2 separate regions of the Homo sapiens genome follow, and region 2 is linked to region 1. A link means that fine-mapping ties the variant in region 1 to the expression of a gene that starts in the linked region. Tissue or cell type: whole blood. Region 1 holds a variant in brackets; the other region holds the start of a gene. All regions are shown on one strand. Distances are from middle to middle.

Region 1 (8,000 bases):
ATAGTGAAGATGATGGTGAAGATGATGATGATGGTGATGACAATGGTGGTGACGATGATACTGACAGTGATGATGGTGATAGACAATCATGACAATAATGATAGTGATGATGATGGTGGTGATGATAGTGGTGATGGTGATGATGGTGGTGGTGATGATAGTGATAGTGATGGCGATGGTGGTGATGGTGACAATGATGGTAGTAGCAATGATGATGGTGATGATGGTGAGTGTTAGTATGCTGGGTGCCACACCTTTTTCTGAGCACTGGACAGGCATTGGTTTGTTGAAAGCAGCCAACTGCAGCACGGCTGGGTGGCTCCATGACAGTCGCTTTACTTTACAGCTAGAGGGAGAAGCAGCTAAGGAATTTGTGCCAGGTCACACTGCTAAAGAGGCACAAACCTGGGGTGACACTGGCAGTCAAAGTTATATATAGCAATTGCGGGGCAGAAGCAGGTGTGAGTGTGCTCTCAGGTGGATGCAGGGGCACTCAGAGACCCTGACTGGGATCACCCTGCAAAGGCAGCAACTGCTCTGAGCCGCTGGGGGCTGCTCTAGGATTCTGCAAAAAAGGCTCAGGCCGACGGTGTCTTCGAGTGCTAGGTCCTCCTGCCTCCTCAATCCCTCCTTCACACCTGCCCTCTGGCCCTTTCCCACGAGACCCACTGGAGGCCCAGTAAACAACTTACTGTACAGACAGCGGGTGGAGGGATGGAGGGGAGGGGCTCAGCTCCCTTCAGCCAGCCCCGTCCCTGCTCCAGCACTGCTCTCAGACACCACCTAGTGGCTTCTGGGGACAGTGCTGGTGGCCCCAAGCCTCCTGACAGGTAAGCAGTGCCACCTCCTCTGCAGGCCCCTGGAGGCTCTCCTGATGGAGCGACCCAGACGGCTTCCCTCGGGAGGACACTCCCCTCTCTGTTTTGGGGGTCTGCGATTTTGTACAGAAGGTTTTCTTAAAGAAGTGCTCATCCAGATTTCGTGGGCTCAGGAGATTTAGGTTGCAGAGGTTTCCCTTGAAGAACTCAGCCTTGGAGACCCGGCGCCCAGAGAGCGGACTTCAAGCTTTGTGTGAGTGAGTGCGTCCTAGAGTCTTGCCAAATAGCACCTATAGTCTCTGTAAAATTTTTGAGCTATAATTGATGCAAAATAAAATCCACTTTTTAAAGGATACAATTTGACGTTTTGACTTTTTTTTTTAAGACAGAGTCTTGCTCTGTCGCCCAGGCTGGAGTGCAGTGGCGTGATCTGAGCTCACTGCAAACCTCCGCCTCCCAGGTTCACGCCATTCTCCTGCCTCAGCCTCCTGAGTAGCTGGGACTACAGGAGCCCGCCACCATGCCCGGCTAATTTTTTGTATTTTTAGTAGAGACGGGGTTTCACCATGTTAGCCAGGATGATCTCGATCTCCTGACCTTGTGATCCACCTGCCTTGGCCTCCCAAAGTGCTGGGATTACAGGCATGAGCCACCGCACCTGGCCAATGTTTTGACTTTTATATGCAACTGTGAAACCATTGCCATCATCAAGACAGCATATACCTCCCATCACTCCCCGCGTTTCCTGTGTGTGTCTGTAATCCCATCATCAAGACAGCATATACCTCCCATCACTCCCTGCGTTTCCTGTGTGCGTCTGTAATCCCACTTGCTCACCACCCCACCCCAGGCAACCACCAACATGATTCCTGTCAGTTTTGATTGGTTTGCATTTTCTAGAGTTTATACAAATAAAATCACACAGTATGCTGTCTTTCGAGGGGGACGTACCATTATTTATCCATCTGCCTGTTGGTGTATGTGTGGATTGTTTCCATTTTTGGCTATGACACATAAAGCCTCGATGAACATTTCAGTACCAGTCTCCGAATGGACATATGTTTTCTTTCCTTTTTTTTTTTTTTTTTGAGACGGAGTCTCGCTCTGTCGCCCGGGCTAGAGTGCAGTGGCGAGATCTCGGCTCACTGCAACCTCTGCCCAACGGGTTCAAGTGATTCTCCTGCCTCAGCCTCTCCAGTAGCTGGGATTACAGGCGTGCACCATCAGGCCCAGCTAATTTTTGTATTTTTAGTACAGACAGGGTTTTGCCATGTTGGCCAGGTTGGTCTCCAACTCCTGACCTCAGGTGACCCACCCGCCTTGGCTTCCCAAAGTGCTGGGATTACAGGAGTGAGCCACTGCACCCAGCCTGGATACAGGTCTTTTATCAGATACAGGTTTTGAAAATATTTTCTGCCAGTCTGTGGCTTTCTTTCTTTCCTTCCTTTCTCTCTCTTTTTTTTTCTGGGTCTCCTGTCACCCAGGCTGGAGTTCTGTGGCATGATCATGGCTCATTGTAGCCTCCACCTCCTGGCTCAACTGATCCTCCCACCTCGGCCTCCTGAGCATCTGAGACTACAGACACACACCACTACATCCGGCCAATTTTTAAATTTTTTTGTAGAGGGGTTTCACCATGTTGCCCAGGCTGGCTGGCCTCAGACTCCTGAGGTCAAGCAATTGCCTGCCTCAGCCTCCCACAGTGCTAGGGTTACAGGCATGAGCCATCACTCCTGGCCTCTAATCTGCTTTTTTTGATGTGTCTTTGTCTGATTTGGGTATCAGGATAATACCGGCCTCATAAAATGATTGGAAGCATTCCCTCCTCCTCTATTTTTTGGAATAGTTTCAGTAGGATTGGTATTAGTTCTTTAAAAAATGTTTGGTAGGCCAGGTGTAGTGGCTCACGCCTGTAATCCCAGCACTTTGGGAGGCCAAGGCGGGCAGATCACGAGGTCAGGAGTTAAAGACCAGCCTGGCCAACATGGTGAAACCCCATCTCTACTAAAAATACAAAAATTAGCCAGGCGTGGTAGCAGACCCCTGTAATCCCAGCTACTCTGGAGGCTGAGGCAGGAGAATCGCTTGAACCTGGGAGGTGGAGGTTGCAGTGAGCCAAGACCGCACCACTGCACTCCAGCCTGGGAGACAGAGCAAGACTCCGTCTCAAACAAACAAACAAACAAACAAACAAACAAACAAAAACTAAGAATAGAGCTGCCATAAATAAAGCAATCCCACTGCTGGGCATATACCCAAAAGAAAGGAAATCAGTATATGAAAGAGATACCTGGCCGGGTGTGGTGGCTCATGCCTGTAGTCCCAGCTACTGAGGAGGCTGAGGCAGGAGAATCACTTGAACTCTGGGGGCAGAAGTTGCAGTGAGCCGAGATCGCACCACTGCACTCCAGCCTGGGTGACAGAGCGAGACTTTGTCTCAAAAAAAAAAGAAAGAAAGGAAGAGATACATGTGCTACGATGTTTATCACAGCACTATTATTTGTGGGAGCTAAAAATTAAAACAATTGAATTTGTGGAGACAGACAGTAGAAAGATGGTTACCAGAGGCTGGGAAGGGTAGAACAGTGGGAGGAGGGGGGCAAATGGGGATGGTTAATGGGTATAAAAAGACAGAAAGAATAAGACCTAGTGTTTGATAGCACAACAGGGTGTCTACAGTCAATAATGATTTAATTGCACATTTTAAAATGACTAAAAGAGTATAGTATTGGATTATTTGTAACGCAAAGGATAAATGCTTGAGGTGATGGATGCTCCATATACCCCATGTGATTACTACGCACTGCATGCCGGTATGAAAATATCTCATGTGCCCCATAAATGTACACACCCACTATGTACCCAAAAAATTAAACATAAAAAAACTTTTTTTTTTTGAGACGCAGTCTTGCTCTGTCGCCCAGGCTGGAGTGCAGTGGCGGGATCTCAGCTCACTACAAGCTCCGCCTCCCGGGTTCACGCCATTCTCCTGCCTCAGCCTTCCGAGTAGCTGGGACTACAGGCGCCTGCCACCACGCCCAGCTAATTTTTTGTATTTTTAGTAGAGATGGGGTTTCACCATGTTGGCCAGACGGGTCTCGAACTCCTGACCTCAGGTGATCCACCCACCTCCGCCCAAAGCGCTGGGATTACAGGCCTGAGCCACCGCACCTGGCCAC[T/C]GAGTCTTAAGTTTTCTGAGGCTAGTTCTACATCCTAGGATCATGTCCCCCGCCCAGAGAAGACCCCAACATAGGCCGCGCTGCTCCCTCCGTCTACCGGTTTGGAGCTTCTCCTGGCAACAGGGTTCAGGCTACTAACAAGGCCTTCCTCAAGACCCCACCCATAACCAACGACCATACTTCGTGGGTCCATCTTTGTAACATCTTTACTTCCTTGGAGCAAATTCCCAGGAATGGGTTTTCGGGGTCCAAGGGTATGCACCTCTAGCACTACGACAAACGCGGCCAACACGCTTCAGGGAAACGGTGCCCCAGTTTGCATTCTGCTTCCCCTGCCCTGCCCTGGGGGTCTGACTGGTGAAACATGGGATGGCAGAGTGGTCGGGTGTTTCAGATTCCACGGTGGGCCGGGGTCTTTTCCTACCCTCGGGAGCCGTCTGAATTTCTCCTCTGCCGAGTTCCTGCGGGTGTCCTTCGCCCACCGGCCCGGGGGAGTGAGTAGCAGGCACCAGGTGAGCAGGCCTCCGCTCGCAGCGGCTACGTGCACGGGCAGGAGCACCGCCCCACGCCCCAGGTGGCCGCAGGGTGAGGGGACCGGAGGGCGGGAGGCGCACAATGGGGGGCACGCCCGTATCTCTAGCCCGGCCGGCAGCGGGCAGCGAGGCTCAGTCCTCGCCCCTTCTCCCAGCTGCTATTCGGGGCTCCCGAGGCGCTCAGAGGGGTCGACTGCGTCCGTGGGGCACAACCCAGGGGCCAGGCTAAGACGCCACACACGGCAACGACCCTCAACGACAACGACCCCCACGACGCCCCGCGCCCCAGGGCCAGCAGGCTGGGGTCCGAGAACCTCCTTGCCGGAAGCGGAAGTGCGTCACGGCGACGGCCGGCAAGCACGCACCGCGCAGACTCGCTGTGGTGGCGTGACCCGGAAGCGCTCGCCGAGGCCCCTCCTTGCCCGCCGATATCTCTGCCGGGTGACTAGCTGCTTCCTTTCTCTCTCGCGCGCGGTGTGGTGGCAGCAGGTGTGGCGCGCGGCGCGGGCTTCGGGCTCAGGGCTGGGGCTGGGGCGGGAGTGGGGGCTTGGACGCGGGGGACGGGGTGCGGGGTGCTGGGTGCGGCTGGGGCCGTGACCCTAGGGGCCGGTTTGCGCCGGGAGCCGGGGCACGGTTCCGGCCGTACTCACGGCGCCGCGCGGTGACTCCCCAGGCGCAGCCCAGCCTCGAAATGCAGAACGACGCCGGCGAGTTCGTGGACCTGTACGTGCCGCGGAAATGGTAAGCGCCCCCCACATGCCTCTCTTCCGTCCTTACCTAACCACCACGTCCCCTCGCCTGCCCTTGTTCCCCCACACCCCTCCCGTCCTTACCTCGTCACGTCCCTAACTTGTCCTGCCCCCGACGTTACTCTTTTCCATTCATATACCCCCAACCTCCCTCGTCCCCTCTTTCATTCTTACCGCCCAAGTCCCCTCTGCTCACTGCGCCCTTTCTCCACAGCTCCGCTAGCAATCGCATCATCGGTGCCAAGGACCACGCATCCATCCAGATGAACGTGGCCGAGGTGAGCTGGGAGCCCGGGAGGCGGGAAGGTTGTGATATATGTGCGGGAAAGGCAGGCTGTCCCATTGTGGAGGAGCCCCTGGGGTGAAGGTACAGGCAGAGGCTGGCTTTGAGGATTGGTGTTTCCCAAACCTGGGGGAGTGGTTTGTGACCCTTCTTCTCTTTCTAGGTTGACAAGGTCACAGGCAGGTTTAATGGCCAGTTTAAAACTTATGCTATCTGCGGGGCCATTCGTAGGATGGTGAGTGTTTCCCTGGGCTTTGCTCATCACTTCGGGACATCGTGGACTTTACCGTGCGCATTGGAGTGTGTGATGGTGCCTGAGTAGATCTGCTGGCAGAGTAGTTTGAGCCAGCTGGACTGGGCTGGCCGCCTGCCGCTTCTTGAGGGTGGAAGAGGGGTGCTCTGAGAAGACACTCAGGCAGCAGACTCTGCCTCTCACTAGGAGGTGCCCCCCCGACCCCGCTCCACCATAGTCAGGCTGCAGGCTGCCCCGGGAGAGGTGGCTCCCCTTCTGCGCCTGTCTCCATTCGCTCAGCGGGGGAGAGACGTGGGCTGGTGGCACAGCTGACCTTCTGCCATCTCAGGCAGCCGGAGTGGAAATATTCTTAGTGTGCTTTTTTTTTTTTCTTAAGGGTGAGTCAGATGATTCCATTCTCCGATTGGCCAAGGCCGATGGCATCGTCTCAAAGTAAGGTTGGGGGCTCACATTTGGGCAGAGTGAGTGGACTAGGACTGCTCCAGAGGCGTGGTCTTAACGTTGTCCTTTTCCCCTGGTTCTAGGAACTTTTGACTGGAGAGAATCACAGATGTGGAATATTTGTCATAAATAAATAATGAAAACCTACCTGTGCAGGTTCATTCTGTGTCTGTAGGCCCAGGGTTGAGGTTTTGCTGTCAGTGGGTGACGGGTGGGGTAGGGTACCCAGTTAGTTGAAAGGAGACAAGCTGTGAAACATATTGCAAAACTGAGGTTTAAAGGACAAATACATTATCCATTTAAAAACAGATATCTAAGACAAAATAACTCAAACATTCTGAGGTCTGATACTTGCTTATGCACACTGACATCCACAACTGCTACCGGTGCGGAAGCAACGCCAGGCCTGGTTCTGTATAGTCACAGCCGAGCTGAACACCTTAGCTCCGACACCTGGATGTGTTCTAGAGAATGACAGGCTGAGACTGTAGTTTGGTTTAACTACTGGCTTTGTTGCAATAATCCTCGAATACCACACAGTGGCAGCTTTTGGCATCATAAAAATGGGACATAACTGAAGGGAAGGCTTCACACATCACAAAGACCGGGTTGGTTAATGACTAAATCTCACTACATGAATACGCAATCTTAAATTACTGTGCTTATCAGCCATTTCTCGCATTCATGTGTAGGAAAAACCATGGAGACGTGTCCCTGGAGGGCAGGTTGTAAACTGCAACAGTTACTAGGAAGTCAGTCCTTTACATGCTCGTAACATGGGCGAGCTCTTGAGATGGGATCTGGGTGGCAGGAGAGGTTGCTTTTCAGAGGAAAGCTGCCTGGGACCCAGCATGGTGGAGCAGCTTTGAAGCTGAGTCCCCTCTGGGTGCATACTGGGTTCCAGGGGATGATCCTTGGCTTGAGGGCAGGCTGCTTGATGGAAGGGGACGCTCCACAATAAGAAAGAACAAAGGCTTTGGTTTGTCCTCATCCTCCAGTCTGTCCCACACACCTGCCATCTCTGGGTTTTGGTGGCCCCAGTGAGTGGCTGTGGAAAAGGAGGAGGGCCAGGTGGGTGCTGGCAGCTGTCCTGCACCACTGCTGGGGTCGGGTGGAGTTGCTGGTGGAGTTCTGTGATAGCAGAATTGGCATCTCCTTTCTGCGGAAGCACCAGTCTGCACAGAAAGCATAGGATGTATTGTATTAATGGGCTAGAGACAAAGTCGTCCCAGAGCCCCTCCAGGGCCAGGCAGGTTTATAAGGTAGTGGTAGGAAAAAGCTTGGTGGCTGAGGCAGTGGCCAGTTTTGAGACCAGCTGACCCCCCATGAAGAAAAACTCAGCAGTCCTTGGTTATTCAGTGTTTTTGATGAGGCAGCTAGCTGGAGCGCTGGACCATGCAGAATTTGTTGCAAGAACTTCAGACAGACGTGGAAAAACTAGAGATGGGGCCCTGCTGGCCTGCACAGAAGGGACAACGACCACCATTTGGGGTCCTTTTAGCATGGTGGGCTGCCCTGGCCGAGGTGGCCAAGATGGCACCTGTTTCCTGCCTCAGAAGAAAAGGCACTGACGCACTGACCCTTTGAGGTTGTGTGGGGTGTGGTCAGTGCCCTCCTGCCTGAGGGTCAAGTGTGTTTTCAAGTCAACTTCAGCAGACCTCATTTAACCATTTTTTGTTCCCTTAAAAAAAAAAGACCCAAAAAACCAAATCCCAATAAATATGTTATTTTTCTCCATCACAAT
Region 2 (8,000 bases), 22 kb after region 1:
ATAACTCGAGCCCAGGAGGTAGAGGCTGCAGTGAGCTGTGATTGCGCCACTGCACTCCTGCCTGGGAGACAGAGAGAGACCCTGTCTCAAAAAAAAAGAGGCTCTGCTCATCTCACACTGACTCCTGCCACATACCTCACCAAGCCCTGGGCACGCATCTGACCTCTGACCTCAGGGAGGCCATGCTTAGTGCTTAGTGTGAACCCGCTTCTCAGAGGAGATTGAGGCTCAGAGAGGCCATGTCACCTGCTCAAGGTCACAGAGGTACTGAACAGTGCAGCTGGGATTCCAAGCCAAGTCTGTTCCCAGAGCCCAGGTCAAACCACCACACTCACAAGACCAACATCAGGGCTGCCTTCAGGACTTTCAGAATTCTCTCCATTTCCTGAAACCAACTCATCCTAGAACTCTCAAGCCAGGAGCTAGCAGCCCCTTTTGCCGGGGCAGCCACCCTTCCCTCGATCAGCAGCCAGGCCCAGGGAACGCAGGGTGAAATGGACGTCCTCACGCTGGGGTCTACCTATCAGGGAGGGGCCATGGCCCTCAGAAACAAGGTCAGCACCACGAACTTGGCAGCAGAGCCCCAGGAGGGACGCCTCCCCCTCCAGGAACAGAGTGGGGTTCAGGAAAGACCTGAACAGGGACATGGGGGCCAAGGAGGAGGGAAGGGAGGAGACAGCCCTGGGCAAGGCAAGGGGTGGTGGCGCTTGGGCCCATGGTGGGTACGGCAGGAGGACTGCAGGCACCCAGCCCATGCCACGTCCCATCCTGTCCCAGGGATGCCGGCCACAGCGCACCTTCTAACAATCCCACAGGGCAGGGATGTGCTGCACGTGGGCAGCATGCTGCGCTCAGAACTGTCACCATGGAGGCTCTGGGCCTGCAGGGGGTGCCTTCTCAGTCACAGGCACTTCCCTGCGCGTCGCCACGCTCTGCCTCCCTCCACTCAAGTGGGCTCCACTCCACGCCAGGCCTGGTGCACACAGGGGTGCATGAACTCTGTGGAAGGAGGGCCTATGACAGCACCCAGTCTGCCTGGTGTCACCATCCGGTTCTGGACACTCAACATGCAGGACTGAGGGAGAAAGCTGTTTCCATGTCAAACAACAGGGCCCGGGGTTAGGGAAAAGCCCACCACACCTGCGGAGCTCGGCCCGTTGGGGTGAGCCCGCTTCCCCTGGAGTCCACACCTTAGGGCCTTGCCGCTCTGCCCTGGAGAGTCACCACCTTGTTCCATCTCTCCCGCCTTCCTGAAGGAGCTGGCCATGCCAAATGCATGGGGCCTGGCTGCCACATTTGGGCAAATCCATCCCTCTGCCCCAATCATCCCTCTGACCCTCCCTGGAGCAGCGGCCAGGCATGTCCGTGGGGGGACATCTTGTGGACAGGCCTGGGTCTGCAGGCACCCTCAGCCTGGCTACGGCCAGGAACACTTCCAAGGATGGAGTGCACCGCGACCTGCGTGTGACGCAACCTGCATGTGACGTCATAGTCTTTGAGGACAGAGTGCTGTGTTCTGGGCCCAAACTTCCCCAACCAAAGACCTTAGAGGAACCCAATGCCTCCACCTGCCCGAAGGCCAGGGGCGTGGGGCAACTCTGATGACCTCCAGGTAAGCAAGGAGCACGTGCCAGCCTTGACCCAAGAGCTCTGTGTCGGCCCCTTTGCTGCACACCTGCAGGGGCTGCCTCTGGGAACAGCCGCCCAGCAGGCACTTGGACCTGTGGACAGTGGCTCCCTTTGAGAAGGAACCGCAACAAGCAGCCAGTCCTGGGCCCAGAGCCCACAGTCACTCCTGGAGGTGAGGGCTGTGGGAGGCAGGGTCACCCAGGTCCTGTGGTCTCTGGGAGAAGGACACAGGGTGTCGGGCAGCCAGGGGCCATCTGGGCAGGGGGCACACGCTGGACAGGCAGGGCTCATGGTTGGGGTTGCCCTGGGATGGGCTGAGGTGGTTCCCAGAAATGGAATCAAGGCAGGGGGAGCAGTGGAGACCCAGGGTGTGACAGACCCAAAGATACCGAGCTGAGAGTGATGTGGGGAAGGGCGGGGCTCAGCAGGGAAGTGACAGGGAGAGGAGGGGTGCCAGAGACCAGTGGCTGTGGGATGGGAGATGTGGCTGTGCAGGGGCCTCTGGGAACAGGTGTCAGTGACAGTGCCAGGAGGACCCCGGCCCACATGCTGGGTCTGAGGAGGTGGGCATGGACGGTGTGGCCCGGTTCAAAGAATGCGAAGAGATGCACAGGGCTGTCCATGTGTCCCTGTGTCCCGGGCACTGGTACCAGTGGATGGGGGTGGGGGCATGTCCAGAACCCACAGGGCTGGGGGTCTCAGGGGTAATAAGGGCTGAACCCTAAAACCCATTTCAGAGCACTGACAACGTGGAGATCCAGACCCCGTATTCAGGGGCTGGGAGAATTCAGGGGACAATGAACCCTATGTGTGGGGGGTGACAGGGCCTGAGGAAACCCTCAGCCAGCCCAGGAACCCCCAGTTCTGTATCCAGGACTGACAAGGTCCCAGGTGAACCCAACCCCTGTGTCCTGGGCTGATGAGGGCCCAGACTGACCCTGACCCCTGTGTCCTGGGTTGACAGGGGCTCAGGTCACCTGAACCTCTGTCCAGGGCTGACAAGGCCCCAGGTGAACCCAACCCCTTTGTCCTGGCCTCTGTCCAGGGCTGACAAGGCCCCAGGTCACCTGACCCCCTTGTCCTGGGCTGATGAGGCCCCAAGTAATCCTGACCCCTAGTCCTGGGCTGATCCGGCCCCCGTCCCCGTCCCTGTACCCCGCGTCCTGGGCTGACCTGGCCGGGCCCCCACTCACCTCTGGCGCTGCCCATCCAGGCCGAGGCCGGTGGGCACCTGCGTGGGGCTGAGCAGGCCCTGGGGCGCGGGGGTCCTGGCGGGCAGCCCGGTGGGGGGCTCCGGCGGCGGCGGCGCTGGCGGTTCGCGGGCCTCGGCGGGCGGCGGCGGGGGCTTCTCTCCGCCCGGGCCCAGGCTCGGGGGCCGCCCGTCCAGGGAGATGTTGTTGAGGAAGAAAAGCGCGGCCTGGCGGCGCCGCGAGTCCCCGCGCCTCCGCAGCGCCTGCGGCGGGGCCCGAGCGGCCGAGGTCGGCGCGGCGGGTGGCGGGGGCCCGGCGGGGCCGGGGGCCGGGCCCGGGGCTCCACCGGCCGCGGCCGCGGCCATCCTCAGACTGCGCCCGCCGCCGCGAAGCGCCCCACCCCCTGCCCGCGCGCCCGCGCGCCCGCCGCCCATTGGCCGCGGCGCGCCCACATGCAAATGTATCGCCGTCGCGCTCTCCCATTGGCCAGCGAGGTGCCGCGCTCAGGGCGCTCCCCTGGGTCCTAGAGGCGGTCGGACGCAGCAGCAGGGAGTCGGGAGCTGCGCGCCTCCCCGCCGGTTCGAGTCCCCGTCTTGGGACCTGCGGCCGCGGGGCTCTCGCTTTCTGTTCCCTTTGCTGTATGGCGGCCTTCGCGGATGGCCTCCATCGAGCGCACATTTTAAGGCTCCGGACCCAGGGCGGCGTGGGTGAGGCCCCAGCACACTTCCCTGTCCGGAGGTGTGTCTGGGCGGCGCTTCAGCGGGCGCAGGGCGGCCCCTGGAGGAGCCCCACCGCTTCCCGGAAGGGCCCGCGTGCCATCTGGCCTCCTTCATTGACAGAAGGGAACGAGGGTCTGAGTGGAGAAGGCACCTGCTTGGGATCAAAGCCCCAGGCAGAGTCCTGCACTTCCTGCAGTAGCAAAGTGACCTTGAGCCTGCCTTGTGCCCAGGCCTGTTTCCTCTCTGTGCCTGGGTGCCCCTGACTTCAGAACCTGTGAGCCCGTGGCACCGGGATGGTCAGGGCCTGCCTCTGGAGCCCGGGAGCCTGTCTGCAGTCTGGAGGGGAACCCGCTGTATCTTTGTGGAGGGACTCAGGACCTTGCACCCACCTCTGTGTCACCTGCCTGCTCTGTCCAGCTTTCTTTCATGGGTTTACGTATCTTTAAAGAGGGGACAATGATTTCAGCCTCAGGGTACTGTCAGGATGAAACTGGCTCAGTGAGGGGGTCGGGCTGTGGCCGGAGGCCAGGCACATGCAGTGGTCAGTCCGCGAATGCGCTGCAGTACCTCGCACCTGCCCGCATGCGCCCAGCCTCTCCTGTGCTGGGTGCTGGGGACCCGGTGGGACCGACAGGCACAGCGCTGGCCCTAGGAGCACCTGGTGTGTGGGGAGGCAGCATGATGGCCAACAAGGCAGTGGGCGAGTGGGCAAGACAGGGTCTTCATCACCACCCCTAGCATGGGCCCCTGCCCTTCAGGCCCCTACCCACCTCCCGCCTGCCTGCTCCCTCCTGTGGGCCTTCACGGGCCACCATTGGGGCTCACGCAGCATGCAGCACCTCCATTTCCTTTCCCTCCGCCCTTCCAAGTTGGCCTCCAAGGCCTCTGCCAGGCCTAGGGGAAGGTGGGCAGCTGTCCTGTCTAGGAGAACGCGGGGCTGGGTGGCATAGCAGAGGGGTGGCTGCGGATTCTGGATCCACAGAATGGGGTGCTGACTTGTGTGCCTGGGGGCTCCCGTGAGCGGGGAGTGAGTGTGTCCAGCGCTGTAGGGTGCTGAGGCTGGGGCAGGCACACAGTGGGCCCTCCATCCCTGCTGGCTATCACCAGGAGGAGGGGCCTGACAGGGGAGGGTGGGCCATACACCAGCAGCTTGCAGAGAATCTGGTGTCAGATGAGAACAGAAAGGGGCGAGTGAGGGTGGAGGGCAGGACGCAGGAGGCAGGAGGCAGCTGTCCGTGCTGGCTGCAGCGCCGGGTCCTGGGGATCGGCTGTGCAGTAGGGGGGCCCCTAGCCAGTTCTTCTTTGCTGGCGCTAAGCTAGACTTTGAGGGACAAGGAGGAATGCTGAGGAAGGAACGGGGTCTCTTCCTGGGTCTGGTGAACCCCCTTGCTAGGCTCCCGCTGCCAGTCTTCTCCCCTCCCCAGGGTGTCGATGGGTGGCCAAAAGCCAACCTGGCCTGCGGGCAGTGTGTAGGGAACACACGGCTTTTGTTTCGTGTGATTCTGGAGAAATTAAAGCAACCTTTAACACACCTGGACTTCCCTCTTGGGAGTTCAGTCCCTCTGGCCTCTCAGGACAACAGGCAGACATGTCACAGGCTGCAGGTGGGAGGCAGTGCCCCCTGAGTCAGGCCCGCACCCCAGTCTGGCCCAGGCCTCACCCAGCCCAGTCGTTGGCCCGTGTCCTGCCATCCCTGTGATGCGTGGTTTTAAATGCCCAGCTCACCTTGGTGCTTTGGCTGCAGAGGGCCCTGCTCATGAGTTTCGCTCCTTATTTTCTTTGGCTCTCACCCTGAACTCTGAGCAGGTGTCAAGCGCAGGGCTCTGTCTGGATGCTCCTGACTGCAGGCCTGGCCCTTGGGCTGACTTCTTAGTTTCCCCCTTGCCCTGGCACCCCTCCGTGGCCCCCACCTTTCCTTTCTGCCTGATCCTTGTCCATTTTTCTAGAGTTGGGGTCTCAGCAAACTTCCCAGAACATCCTAGCTCCTTGCCTACTTGGCACACTCCTGTTCATCCCTCAGAACCCAAATTTGGGTTGCAGGTGCCACCTGCCTTGACCTCCCAGGGACACCTGCTCTCCTCCCCGTCCCCCAACACTGGCCATGACTTGGTGCCATTGCTCCTTTGCCCACCGCTCCCTGATGCCCAGCAGAGGTGTCAGTGCCCAGTGTCTCTGCCCTGTAAGGGGCAGTTCTCAGACTTCACATTTAGGAGAATTACCTCTGGGAGCTTCTTAAAACACAGACTCCAGGCTCACCTCTAAAGTCCTGGTTCAGTGGATCCGGGGTTGGGCCCAAGAATCTATTTCTTAAGCTCCTCCCACGAAGCTGGGAGGGACTGATACTCATCCTCCCCCGAGGAGCAGACAGCCTTGAGTGCTCCCGGTGGAGTCCTGGCGAGCTGCCCTGTGGCTGCCAGGCCAGGGACTAGTGAGGAGGGGCAGGTGCACACGGCCGCCGCTGTGGCCAGGCACTTCCCCGAGGGTGCCCTGGTCCCTTCCCGCTGCAGACTCTGCAGAGGAGCTGGTTTTATTCTGCCCTCCCGCAAGGGGGTGACCTCCAGTCCCTGGCACAGTCAGTGGTGTCCTGGGGCCCTGCCAGACACATGCACGGTTCTTCAAGTGTTTATTCTCCGTCACTCAGGGGACCCGGTCTTCGAGGGTGCTGCCGCCCACTGTCTCCCTCCACCCTCACTGCCAGACATCTGTTTGCTGTCAGCCCACGAGGGGGCGTCCAAGATTGTGCTTGGAGCTTGGCGGGCAGGGGTGGGGGTCCGAGTGGTCCGTTGCCTCCCAGAGCGTGGGCACTGCCTGGGAACGGCTGCAGTGCACAGCAGGGGTAGGGCTGGGCTGGAGCCTGAGTGATCCCGCCTCCAGTCCCCACACCCCTCAGGGAGCAGGTGCTGGGCTGTGGGAGGGGCCGCAGAGCATTTCCCAGGTGGGTGGAGACGGGGTGAATCGCCAGCCTGAGACCCCTCTCGGTCCTCCAGCCCCTCTTGAAGTGGGCCAGGATGTGCCCGTCACCGGCTCTTCGGGGTTGCCTGCTGGTTGGGTGGTGTGCCCTCTCCAGGCTGTGGTGAGCAGGCAGAGAGCTGCCCTGGGCTCACTGTGGGTTCAGCTGAGGCTGGCTAGGTCTTCTCCCAGGGTTCTGTGCAGGGCTGCCTGCTGGTTGGATGGTGTGCCCTCTCCAGGCCCTGGTGGGCAGGTGGAGGGCTGCCCCGGGCTCGCTGTGGACCCTGGTGCAGGCTGGCTAGGTCTCCTCCCAGGGGCTGCTGTTGGGGGAGGGACTGTGGTCCTCGGCGTCCCTTGGGCTCCCGGGCCCCTCAGTGGCTGTCAGTTTCCTTCTCCCTCTGGATGGCTTTTTGGAGGCTATGGGAAGTGGCCGGAGGTCAGGCCGGAGCTGTGTGCCTTCCTTTGAGGCAACACTGGCTCTCACCTAGGGCCTCCTGGGTCTCCTCTGGGCACGGGGAGCTGGGTGCTTGGGGAAGTTTGCTGGCCACCCTTGTTCCTACAGAAACCGGTGCCCAGAGCAGGGGTAGCCCGATCTGAGGGTGAACCCTGAGAATTGGGTGGAGGGTGGACACTCTCCCCATTGTGTGACCCCGAACACGGCACTGACCCCAGTGGCCCCCTTCCTGCCTTGGAGGGAGCCAGGCCATACTGGCTGGCCTGACACTGGCTGCGGGCCTCAGCAGGCCTGCCCCCGGGCTAGGGCCACATGGGAGGGGCGCCTGGTTCCTGCGATGGTCCGGGGACGGGGATCCTGCCGAGATGCTGGGCTTAGGCCATCTCTGAGGCACAGCAAGCTCAGGCTCTGAGTTGAATGGGTCAGGTTTGAATCCTGACACAAGTCCCAGACCTGTGACCTTGGGCAAGTGACCTCTCCCCTCTCAGCCTCAATTTCTGCACCAGCCAAACAGTGATGATCCTACCTGCTGGGCAGGGTCATAAGGCTCACAGGCAGCCACAGCTGCACCCACTCTTCTGGGGCACTAGGCACGAGGATGCTGGCTCTGGCGCTGAGCTGTGCTCATGCTGGGCAGGGACCTGCTCTCACTGATCGCCACAGCAGTTTCTCAGGAGCCCCTGCCAGCGTCCCTGGTCCCGGCTCAGGTAGGAGCACAAGGGTGTGCTGGCTCACAGACTGCACCCCCCGGGGCCATTTCCACCCACTCAGCAGGAAGTGCCTCAAATAAGGGCCGTGCTGGTCTCTACTGCCGCTCCGGGCAGACGCAGGCCATGGCCACCTGCCGGCAACAATGGCACACAGTGGCGGCACCACCCCGCCTGCTGCCTGCGGGCCTTGCCCGGAGAAAAACCAGGGCCATACAATTAGGTGTTCAAAGTCTCTCATGGGCTCCTGGACCCCAGCTGGAGCTGCCATTGAGCCCAGAGCAGGAAGTGAAAAGTTGTCCCGATACCCTCGGACCAGGGCCGAGGCTCCTGCCGGCATTACTGGGAGGAG

What was found. PIP is the estimated chance that this variant, and not a neighbour inherited with it, causes the effect.
Region 2: it holds the start of CABLES2, and the variant in region 1 is fine-mapped to the expression of CABLES2 in whole blood (TOPMed, PIP above 0.99).

Annotation. Positions count from the first base shown.
Region 1 is chr20:62,382,118-62,390,117 of GRCh38, forward strand. RPS21 (ribosomal protein S21) reads left to right here and starts at 4,986. Exons shown (of 6, transcript NM_001024.4): 1 at 4,986-5,019; 2 at 5,204-5,271; 3 at 5,494-5,557; 4 at 5,726-5,797; 5 at 6,192-6,247; 6 at 6,340-6,403. The coding sequence starts at 5,222. The coding sequence ends at 6,349. It overlaps CABLES2 (Cdk5 and Abl enzyme substrate 2), which reads right to left. Exons shown (of 10, transcript NM_031215.3): 10 at 6,517-8,000. RPS21-DT (RPS21 divergent transcript) reads right to left here and starts at 4,872. Exons shown (of 1, transcript NR_186459.1): 1 at 4,186-4,872. RefSeq lists enhancers at 900-1,079, 4,124-4,173, 4,452-5,143, 5,144-5,835 and silencers at 4,524-4,643, 5,074-5,263. The variant T/C (reference allele first, on the strand shown) is at 3,998.
Region 2 is chr20:62,404,093-62,412,092 of GRCh38, forward strand. CABLES2 (Cdk5 and Abl enzyme substrate 2) reads right to left here and starts at 3,193. Exons shown (of 10, transcript NM_031215.3): 1 at 2,823-3,193. The coding sequence starts at 3,184. RBBP8NL (RBBP8 N-terminal like) reads right to left here. Exons shown (of 14, transcript NM_080833.3): 14 at 6,145-6,904. The coding sequence ends at 6,786. LOC105372709 (a long non-coding RNA gene) reads right to left here and starts at 2,802. Exons shown (of 2, transcript XR_936967.3): 1 at 798-2,802. RefSeq lists a silencer at 3,110-3,359 and an enhancer at 6,592-6,651.